Homo sapiens: one gene and its partner. The protein of the gene in region 1 purifies or fractionates together with the protein of each later gene. This does not show direct contact. Each region holds a gene or a part of one and is shown in the gene's direction. Other genes may lie near its edges.

Region 1 (4,822 bases):
TCCTGGGCTGAAGCAATCCTCCCACCTCAGCCTCCTAAGTAGCCGGCACTATAGGCACACACCACCACACCTGGCTGATTTTTCTAATTTTTATTTTTAGTAGAGACAAGGTCTCATTATATTGCTTAGACTGGCGCATATATATATATATATATATATATTTTTTTTTTTTTTTGTAATGACATCTTAGCCAGATTTGATCTATGTTATTTTGACTTAATAAAGATAATCAGGAACTTACTGAATGAAATCTTTCTTATTTCTAATTTTTTTTGGGATAAATATCTAGAAGTGAAGTCAAGAGTGATAAATACTTAAGGCTTTTGATAACATGCAGCAGAAATTGTTTCTTAGTAATGTAAGTAAGTAAGTCGATTCTTATTAGTGACAAAATAGGATGGTATTAGCATAGTGACTTCATTTTTTTTTTAAAGGCTCTCCCCTTGTAGTATCTTTAATTGGTGCACTTTTACGTGATTTTCCCAATCGCTGGGAGTACTACCTCAAACAGCTTCAGAATAAGCAGTTTAAGAGAATAAGGAAATCTTCGTCTTATGATTATGAGGCTCTAGATGAAGCCATGTCTATAAGTGTTGAAATGCTCAGAGAAGACATCAAAGATTATTACACAGATCTTTCCATCCTTCAGAAGGACGTTAAGGTGCCTACAAAGGTAATGGGATCAATGATCCTCATCATTGGGTATTTATTGCATGTAAGCTTTGATATAGTACTGAGCATGTTGTTACAGAGAACCTTGGAAGGATAAGACCCAGGGGACTGAGGTGGTGGGGTGTTGGGTGTAGAAATCCCTCTGCTGTTAGCTTCCATTAAGGGCTTTGTGTTGAACTCAGGAGTTAACCTATTTCTGTGGTTCTAGTGCAGCTGAAGAAGCATCTGACTTCTCTTTCTCTTTTCTATCTTGAGGAGTAGCTGAGTTTCTTCTTAAGAAATGGAGACATTCTTACTCAGGGCTTTAAGATACCGTTTTTTTGTGTGTGTGATAATACCTGTCTACAGTCCTGGTCATTGTACTTTTGTGGCATATTAAATACTTACAACAATTCCTAGGTGTTATGTATTCTCTGGGACATGGAAACTGAAGAAGTTGAAGACATACTGCAGGAGTTTGTAAATAAGTCTCTTTTATTCTGTGATCGGAATGGAAAGTCGTTTCGTTATTATTTACATGATCTTCAAGTAGATTTTCTTACAGAGAAGAATTGCAGCCAGCTTCAGGTACTTGCATCTTGGTTTACTTTTTTTTTTCCTTTTTCCTTTGAAATAATTTTAGATTTATTGAAAATTTACAAAATAGTAGATAGTTTCTGTGCATAAGTCCTTCACCTAGCTTCCCCTAATATTAACATTTTATATAACCATAGTACAGTTGTTAAAGCCAGAAAATTAACATTGATACAATACTGTTCACTAACCTACGTGTTCTTTTTGTAGTCCAGGCCAATTTAGGATCCCGTATTGCATATGATTGTCTTGTTTCCCTACTTGTCATTTTTTTCCGTCTCCTCAAATCTGTGAAAATTTATCAGTCTTTATCTTTCATGGCCTTGTCACCTTTGAAGAGTACTGGCTAGTAATTTTGTACAGTATACCCAAATTTGGTTTTGTGTGATGTTTTTCCTGACTAGATTGAAGTTATAGATATTTGGCAAGAATACCAATGATGTTGTATCTTTCTCAGTGGCGTCATAGGCTGAGAGTACTTGGTGGTTTTTAAAAAATTTTTTGTAGAGATAGTGTTTTGCCATGTTGCCCAGGCTGTTCTTGAACTCCTGGGCTCAAGTGATCCACCTGTCTTGGCCTCCCAAAGTGCTGAGATTGTAGGTATGAGCCACTATTCCCAGACTCCTGGTGTTGATATGTTTTATTATGGGTGATGTTAATGTTGATAATTTGTTTAAAGTGGTATCTGCCAGGTTTCTGCACTGTAAAGTCATTATTTTGTGGGGAGATTCTCTGTATATATATATGTATTTTTTTTTTTTTGAGACAGGGTCTTACTGTGTTGCCCAGGCTGGCATGCAGTGGCTCACTGCAATCTTAAACTCCTGGGCTCGGTTGGTCCTGAGTAGCTAATTCCCGAGTAGTTGGGTCTGCAGGCATATGCCACCACACCTGACTGATTTTTTTTATTTTTTATTTTTTGTAAAAAAATTAAATATACGGATATCTCTCTATGTTGCCCAGGCTAGTCTCGAAGTCCTGGCCTCAAGTGATCCTCCTACCTTGGCCTCCCAAAGTGCTGGGATTACAGGCGTGAGCCACCGAGCCCGGCCTCTCTGTACATTCTTAATAGCTTTGGAAGCTGAAGTTACTGTGATGCTTAGGTTATAAAATTGTTTCTGGCTTCTGAAACGTTTCATTGGGTTGCAGGATCTACATAAGAAGATAATCACTCAGTTTCAGAGATATCACCAGCCGCATACTCTTTCACCAGATCAGGAAGACTGTATGTATTGGTACAACTTTCTGGCCTATCACATGGCCAGTGCCAAGATGCACAAGGTAAGATGACCCATTTAAAAATTCTTTTATCTGACTTCCCTTTTTCCATATGTATTACAAATAAGTGCTTTTTTTCTGTTATTTTTTGTCTTGAATTTTGTTCATATTGCTTTCCATTTGATTTTTTTTTTTTTTTTTTTTTTTTGAGACAGGGTCTCACTTTGTTTCTCAGGCTGGAGTGCAGTGGCACAATCTCAGCTCATTACACCCTCACCTCCTGGGCTCAAGTGATCCTCCCACTTCAGCCCCCCATGTAGCTGGGACTATAGGCACATGCCACCATGCCTGGCTAATATTTTTGTATTTTTGGTGGAGATGGGGTTTCACTATGTTGCTCAGGCTGGTCTCAAACTCCTGAGCTTGACGTGAGCTCAAGTGATCCACTCGCTTCAGCCTCCCAAAGTGTTAGGAGTACAGGCATGAGCCACCGCGGCTGGCTGAAGATTTGAATTTTTATGTAGTTAAATTTACCACTGTTGTTGTCGTCGTTGTTTGGTATTTTGCTTTGCTGTCCTGTTCATAAACATGTATTGTTTTATTAGTATAATTTTTTATTAGTAAAAATGGGATTATAGCTTGCATAATTATTTTTGTTTTTACCTGTAGTGATTAGAAAAGGTACCTTAGTAACTAGTAAATGAACCACCTCAGAATTAATCCTCTTCTTACTAGTAGCTTTCCTTTTTGGGCAGTATGGATTTGTTTTGTAAGCTTTGAGAGGAAATGGATAGTGGAAAAGTATATTCATTGATTCAATAAATATTTATTGAGTGCTTGTTATGTATATTGCTCTTCATTAAGAGGATAAAGCACAGGCACAAAGTCATTGCTCTCACGAGTTTATGTTCTGGGAGGAGGCAGACATTAAACAAATTTATTATATTTCAGTGGGTAGTTAAGTGCTCAGAAGAAGGACAGAGCATGGAAGGGGAAAGAAAGTGATGATAGAGGGGTAGAATCATCATGATTTGCTTATGGGTTTGGTATGCATTATACGAGAAAGAGAAGAATCAAAGATGACTCCAAGAATCAAAGATGACTCAAACCCCAGTGGAAAGAACGGAGTCCATGAACTGAAACAGGGGTCTTTGGGAGAACAAGCTTTTTCCTGCAGAGAATGGGGATGGTTAAGAACTCATTTTGGATATATTAAGTCTGATATACCTATTAAGGCATCTGGCTGGAAATATTGAATAGGCAGTTAGATATATGAGTCTAGAATTCTGGGGAGAATTATAGATGAAAGATGAAAATAAGGAATTATTAGCACATAGATGGTATTTGATTGAAGTCATGACTACCAAGTAGCTACTAAAAATGTTTACATTTGGAAAACCATATGTACTTTCAGTAAATTTTCTATGCTCAGGTATGTTATTTCTTGGTTATGATACATAGTAAATTGTTGTAGTTTGTTTTTTTATCTAGCAAAATATATTTACATTTAATAGTGTATATTGGAATGATGGTATTCCAATAAATACTTGTGCCCTAATTTACTTAACCAAACTCTAGTTATCGAACATTTAGGTTTTCAGTTTTTTTGGTCCTTATGATGTAATGAGCATTCTTGTTTATCTTTGTACCTATGTTGTTTCCTTGGCAAATTCCGAGAAGTAGAATTACTGAGCCAATGCATCTTTTTAAAGCTTTTGACATGTATGATAGTGTGGCAGGATTCAGTTTCTCTTTAGCCTTTTTTCTGACTTTAAAGGTAATGGTTGATTTTCATTGGAAAAACAGAAAAAAACGATGAAAAGGAAAACAGAGATCACAACCATTACTAATGCTCTTGTGTATAGTTTTCTAGATCATTTTGCTGCTTCTATAAACATACTTGTCTCTTAAAACCAAATGGGATCATAATAGAAATAGTCTCATATATTGCTTTTTACCATTTAATTACATTGAATGGTCATCTTTTCATGTCATTTATATAGAGTGACATGATTTTTAAAGCTGCATATTATTTCATTGTATAGCTACATTATGAATGGCCAGTTGGTTGATGGACAATTAGATTGTTTAAGCATATTCATCTGGTTATTTTCTTAGGATACTTTTTTATAAGTGGAATTTCTGGGTCAAATAGTATGTGCAGTTTAAATTTTAATACAGATTGCCAGACTGCTCTCCAGAAGGGTACCCTGTTTTACATGCCTACCAACAGTGGTTGAAAGTGTTCATTTCCTCTGATTCTAGCTAATCACCTCCTCTCCTCTCCTCCCTCCCTTCCCCTCCCCTCCCCTCTTCCTGCCCTCCCCTCTTCCTGCCCTCCCCTCTTCCTGCCCTTGCC
Region 2 (4,822 bases), on another chromosome or scaffold:
GCACCTGCCACCACACCTGGCTAATTTTTGTATTTTTAATAGAGATGGTGTTTCACCATGTTGACCAGGCTGGTTTCGAACTCCTGACCTCTGGTCATCCACCCACCTCAGTCTCCCAAAGCGCTGGGATTATAGGCGTGAGCCACCACACCTAGTATTTGGTCTTATTTAAATCATCCATTTCTCTCCACATTATGTTTATGTTTTTCTTTAAATCTTTCAGCATATTGAGCATATGTATAATAGCTGTTCTTAAGGTCTTATTTTGCTGATTCCATCATCTCTGTAATTCCTGTTCTTTATTTTTCTCCTGGTTATAGGTCACATTATTTTCTGCTTTTTGGCATATCTAGTAATTTATGATTGGATGCCAAGCATTGTGAGTTTCTGAGCATTTGGATTGTATTGTCTTCCTTTAAAGTTTGTTTTGGCTGACAGTAAGTTATATACTTGCTATCAGCTTGTGTTTTTTTTTTTTAAGCCTTATTAGGGTGTGTCTAAAATACTTCTACTCTAACACTAGTTTACTTTTTTTTTTTCTTTTGTGAGACAGGATCTTGCTGTCACCCAGGCTAGAGTGCAGTGGCACAATCATGGCTACTGCAGCCTTGAACTCCTGGGTTTAAGCAATCCTCCTGTCTCACTCTCCTGAGTAGCTGAACCACAGGTGCATACCACCATGCTAGGCTAATTTTTAAATTTTAGGGTCTCCCTTTGTTGCCCTGGCTAGTTTATCTTTTTTTTTTTTTTTTTTTTTTTGAGACAGAGTTTTTGCTCTTGTCACCCAGGCTGGAGTGCAATGGCGCAATCTCGGCTCACCGCAACCTCCACCTCCTGAGTTCAAGCGATTCTCCTGCCTCAGCCTCCCAAGTAGCTGGGATTACAGGCATGCACCTCCACTCCTGACTAATTTTGTATTTTTTTTAGTAGAGACGGGGTTTCTCCATGTTGGTCAGACTGGTCTGGAACCCCCGACCTCAGGTGATGCGCCCGCCTTGGCCTCCCAAAGTACTAGGATTACAGGTGTGAGCCACCACACCCAGCCTAGTTTATCTTTAATATCAAGACATGTTCATCTAGGGTCTCTACTGTTTGAGTATTCACTCAGGTCTCTCTACCCTGTCTGGACAGAGTTAGCCTCCCAGGTATTCCTGTACCACTTATTCTTCAAGGCCAGGATCTGATATCTCAGTGGAATATTCTGATACAGAACATGTGATACATCTGATATTCTGAAACATCTGAAACAATGTATGAGAAACAGCTTTCATTAAAAACTACAAGTACCCATACAACCTTTCTGTTTCTCACTTTCAGTACGGTGTTCAATAAATTGCATGAGATTATTCTACACTTTATTGTAAAATAGATTTTGTGTTAGATGATTTGGCCCAACTGTAGGCTGATGTAAGTGTTCTAAGCATAAGTAAGGTAGCCCAGGCTGAGCTAGGAGAATCGCTTGAACCCGGAAGGCAGAGGTTGCAGTGAGCTGAGACTGTGCCATTGCACTTCAGCCTGGGTGACAGAGAGACTCCATCTCAAAACAAAAAACAAAAAACAGTGGCTTTATTGGGATGTAACTCCATCATTAGTCAAGGAGCATCTGTGTATATCTTTTGATACCACACTATGGTATTTGATCCTCACCACGACCAGTTAAGTGGGTAGTATAATCTTCATTTTATAGGGAAAGGTAGCAAGGCCCAGGGAAGTTGGTTTTGTGACATGTTCTTAAGTGGCAGAGCTGGGTCTTGAGCCCAGATCTTCTGGTTTCGTTAGTCATGCCCTTTAAGCTCCTTGAGAACAGAGAGAACAGTTTTTCACAGAGTGTTTTCTCAATTATGTGGCTCACATTGAACATATCTCAAATCAGGAAGATATATCTTCACATAGAAATATATGGGATCATTTGTTTTTCTTTCAGAAAAGCTGTCATTGAATCAGTTGTAGTGCCTCTGAAATCACTGTTGTAGAATCAAGGAAATATATAGATCTCTCTCCAGTGCCTAATAGAGCCTTTATACATAATATATGCCTGGTAAATGTTTGTATGCTAAGTTCAAGAATAAGCTGATTTTATAAAGCAAAATGTGCTTCTAAAAGTTGTATGCCTGTGCTTGTCTCTGCAGGTATTTTATGCATGGTGTGTGTCGGGAAGGAAGTCAGTGCCTATTCTCACATGACTTGGCAAACAGCAAACCGTCCACCATCTGCAAGTACTACCAGAAGGGCTACTGTGCCTATGGAACTCGGTGCAGGCAAGGACTCTGCAACAGATTCCAGCTGTGACACTGATTTCATTTGGAGAATGGGTCTTGATAAGGGGGAAATTTTAATGTAAAAGTAATATGGCAACATCACAAAAAGTATGGCAAATAAGTTTAAAACCTCAGTTTCAGTACCCTAAAACTAATTTTCTTTTCTTTTTTTTTTTGAGATAGAGTCTCTCACTGTTGCCCAGGCTGGAGGGCAGTGGTGCGATCTCAGTTCTCTGCAACCTCCGCCTCCAGGGTTCTCCTGCCTCAGCCTCCCAAGTAGCTGAGATTACAGGCATCTGCCACTACGCCTGGCTGATTTTTTTTTTTTTTGTATTTTTAGTAGAGATGGGGTTTCACCATGTTGGTCAGGCTGGTCTCTAACTCCTGACCTCGTGATCCTCCCGCCTCAGCTTCCCAAAGTGCTGGAATTACAGGCGTGAGCCACCGTGCCTGGCCTAATTTTCATTTTTTAAAACTACTTTTCAGCCTTATTCTTATGAATATATAGTTATAAAATTGTACACAATTCCGGAAACTTGTTCATGCTTTTGTAGCAAAGAGCCGATCTTTTCTTTCTAGACTGCAAAGCTTCCTTCCCTCCTTTTTCTCTGCAGTGCAGTGGGAGATGATGGAAGTAGGCCCACGTTGGTCTTCCCCTGTCAATGAGTGCCAAGAGAGACAGTCAGGGAGAGATCATTGGCCCTTGTCAGCATTTTGGGGACTCCTGCTCAAAAGAATACTGGGTCAGTCAGGCATCAGGAGATTTTAGCTCAACATCTGTTTGGAACTTTCAGGTTCTCTGTGTGGTCTGGTGCTGTGTGTCTGTCCCACTCAAGTCCCACAGAGACACTTAAGCATAGGTGATAGATAGCAAATGTCCCCCTCACAATGAATTGCCAAGCATCTGTTAATAATCGATAATCCTGTTAGAGTTTAAATATTGGAAAAGATGGCCGCCTTCTTCACCTCAACAAGTGCAGCAGAAGGAGGGCCATTGGCATCTGGGGAGTGTGGGAGATGTGTGTGGGTGGCATGTCTGTAATGCATCTGCTGTGTGTTTTGTTTAGATATGACCACACGAGGCCCTCTGCTGCAGCTGGAGGTGCTGTGGGCACCATGGCCCACAGTGTGCCCTCCCCAGCTTTCCACAGTCCTCACCCTCCTTCCGAGGTCACTGCATCCATTGTGAAAACTAACTCACATGAACCCGGAAAGCGTGAAAAGAGAACATTGGTTCTTAGAGACCGAAGTGAGTAAGCGGAAGCCTTTTGTTGCGTCTTTTTGCATAGCACTCTTGTTAATGCTTGGTGCTCCTTTCTAGCCTCCTCTTGTCAAGAGGACTCCTAACCTAATACACCTCCAGATTGTCTGCGCGGAGAGACTTCAGAACTGTTCTGAAGAGGCTCCATGTGGCTGCAGATCATTCAAATGATACATTCGCCCTCGTGCCCAAGGCTGGGTTGAGCTCCAAGACTGGCCTGGTAAAACATAAAAACACAATCTTTTTGTCAACATGTAACTTCCATCTTCATATGGTGGTTGTCCAGCTGGTGAGAAGCATCAAGCTCTTCATTTCAAACGTAAATATTTTGTCTGGGTAAAGTGGCTCACACCTATAACCCCAACACTTTGGGAGGCTGAGGCGGGTGGATCACCTGAGGTCAGGAGTTCGAGACCAGCCTGGCCAACATGGTTTAGTAGAAACCCTGTCTCTACTAAAAATACAAAAATTAGCCGGGTGTAGTGGCAGGTGTCTGTAATCCCAGCTACTTGGGAGGCTGAGGCAGGAGAATTTCTTGAACCCGGGAGGCAAAGATTGTAGTGAGCTGAGATCACGCCACTGCACTCCAGCCTGGATGACAAGAGTGAGACTCCCTCTCAAAAAAAAAAAAAAAAAAAAGAAAACTAAATATTTTGCTAAAGAGCATGTTTCACTGTTTGACTTTTAGGCCAGTGAATGGTCTTAGTTTTTATGCTGACAGTGTTTGACAGTTTAGATTGCACCTTTGGGAAAAGAATAGCACACTAGGGTTTGGGGCATGGTCTGTGCCTTAAAACAGGGTTTGATGAGGAAGAAAGCTACAAATTGTAAAAGTTTTTTTGTTGTGTTTTTTGTTTGTTTTGTTTTTGTTTTTTTTTTGGAGATGGAGACTCGCTCTGTCGCCTAGGCTGCAGTGCAGTGGCATGATCTCCACCTCCCGGGTTCAAGGGATTCTCTTGCCTCAGCCTTCTGAGTAGCTGGGAATACAGGTGCCCACCACCATGCCCAGCTAATTTTTGTATTTTTAGTAGAGACAGTGTTTCACTATGTTGGCCAGGCTGGTCTCAAACTCTTGGTCTCATGATCCGCCCGCCTCGGCCTCCCAAAGTGCTGGGATTACAGGCAAGAGCCACTGCACCTGGCCATAAAAGTTGTTTTTATTGGCTGGTCCTCACCAGGTGAAGAGATTTCTAGTTCTTGGAATTGGCTACCATGAGGTAGGCAGATTCTGTCCTCAGCAAATGAGTAATCCTGTGAGAATACGTGACCTCTAAACAAGCTCGGAGGTGTGCAGTGGGAAGGC

The links. Proteins that work in one complex are often made in the same cells at the same time.
Region 2: the proteins of APAF1 (region 1) and MKRN2 fractionate together in Homo sapiens (co-fractionation; one large-scale study listed by BioGRID). This does not show direct contact.

What each region holds. Positions count from the first base shown.
Region 1 is NC_000012.12:98,665,119-98,669,940, forward strand, and holds part of APAF1 (apoptotic protease-activating factor 1), read left to right. Parts: exon of another isoform or gene 1-240; intron 241-434; coding exon 435-673; intron 674-1,071; coding exon 1,072-1,239; intron 1,240-2,394; coding exon 2,395-2,526; intron 2,527-4,822. UniProt on the Homo sapiens protein: Oligomeric Apaf-1 mediates the cytochrome c-dependent autocatalytic activation of pro-caspase-9 (Apaf-3), leading to the activation of caspase-3 and apoptosis. This activation requires ATP. Isoform 6 is less effective in inducing apoptosis.
Region 2 is NC_000003.12:12,566,746-12,571,567, forward strand, and holds part of MKRN2 (E3 ubiquitin-protein ligase makorin-2), read left to right. Parts: intron 1-2,129; coding exon 2,130-2,258; intron 2,259-3,325; coding exon 3,326-3,507; intron 3,508-4,822. UniProt on the Homo sapiens protein: E3 ubiquitin ligase catalyzing the covalent attachment of ubiquitin moieties onto substrate proteins.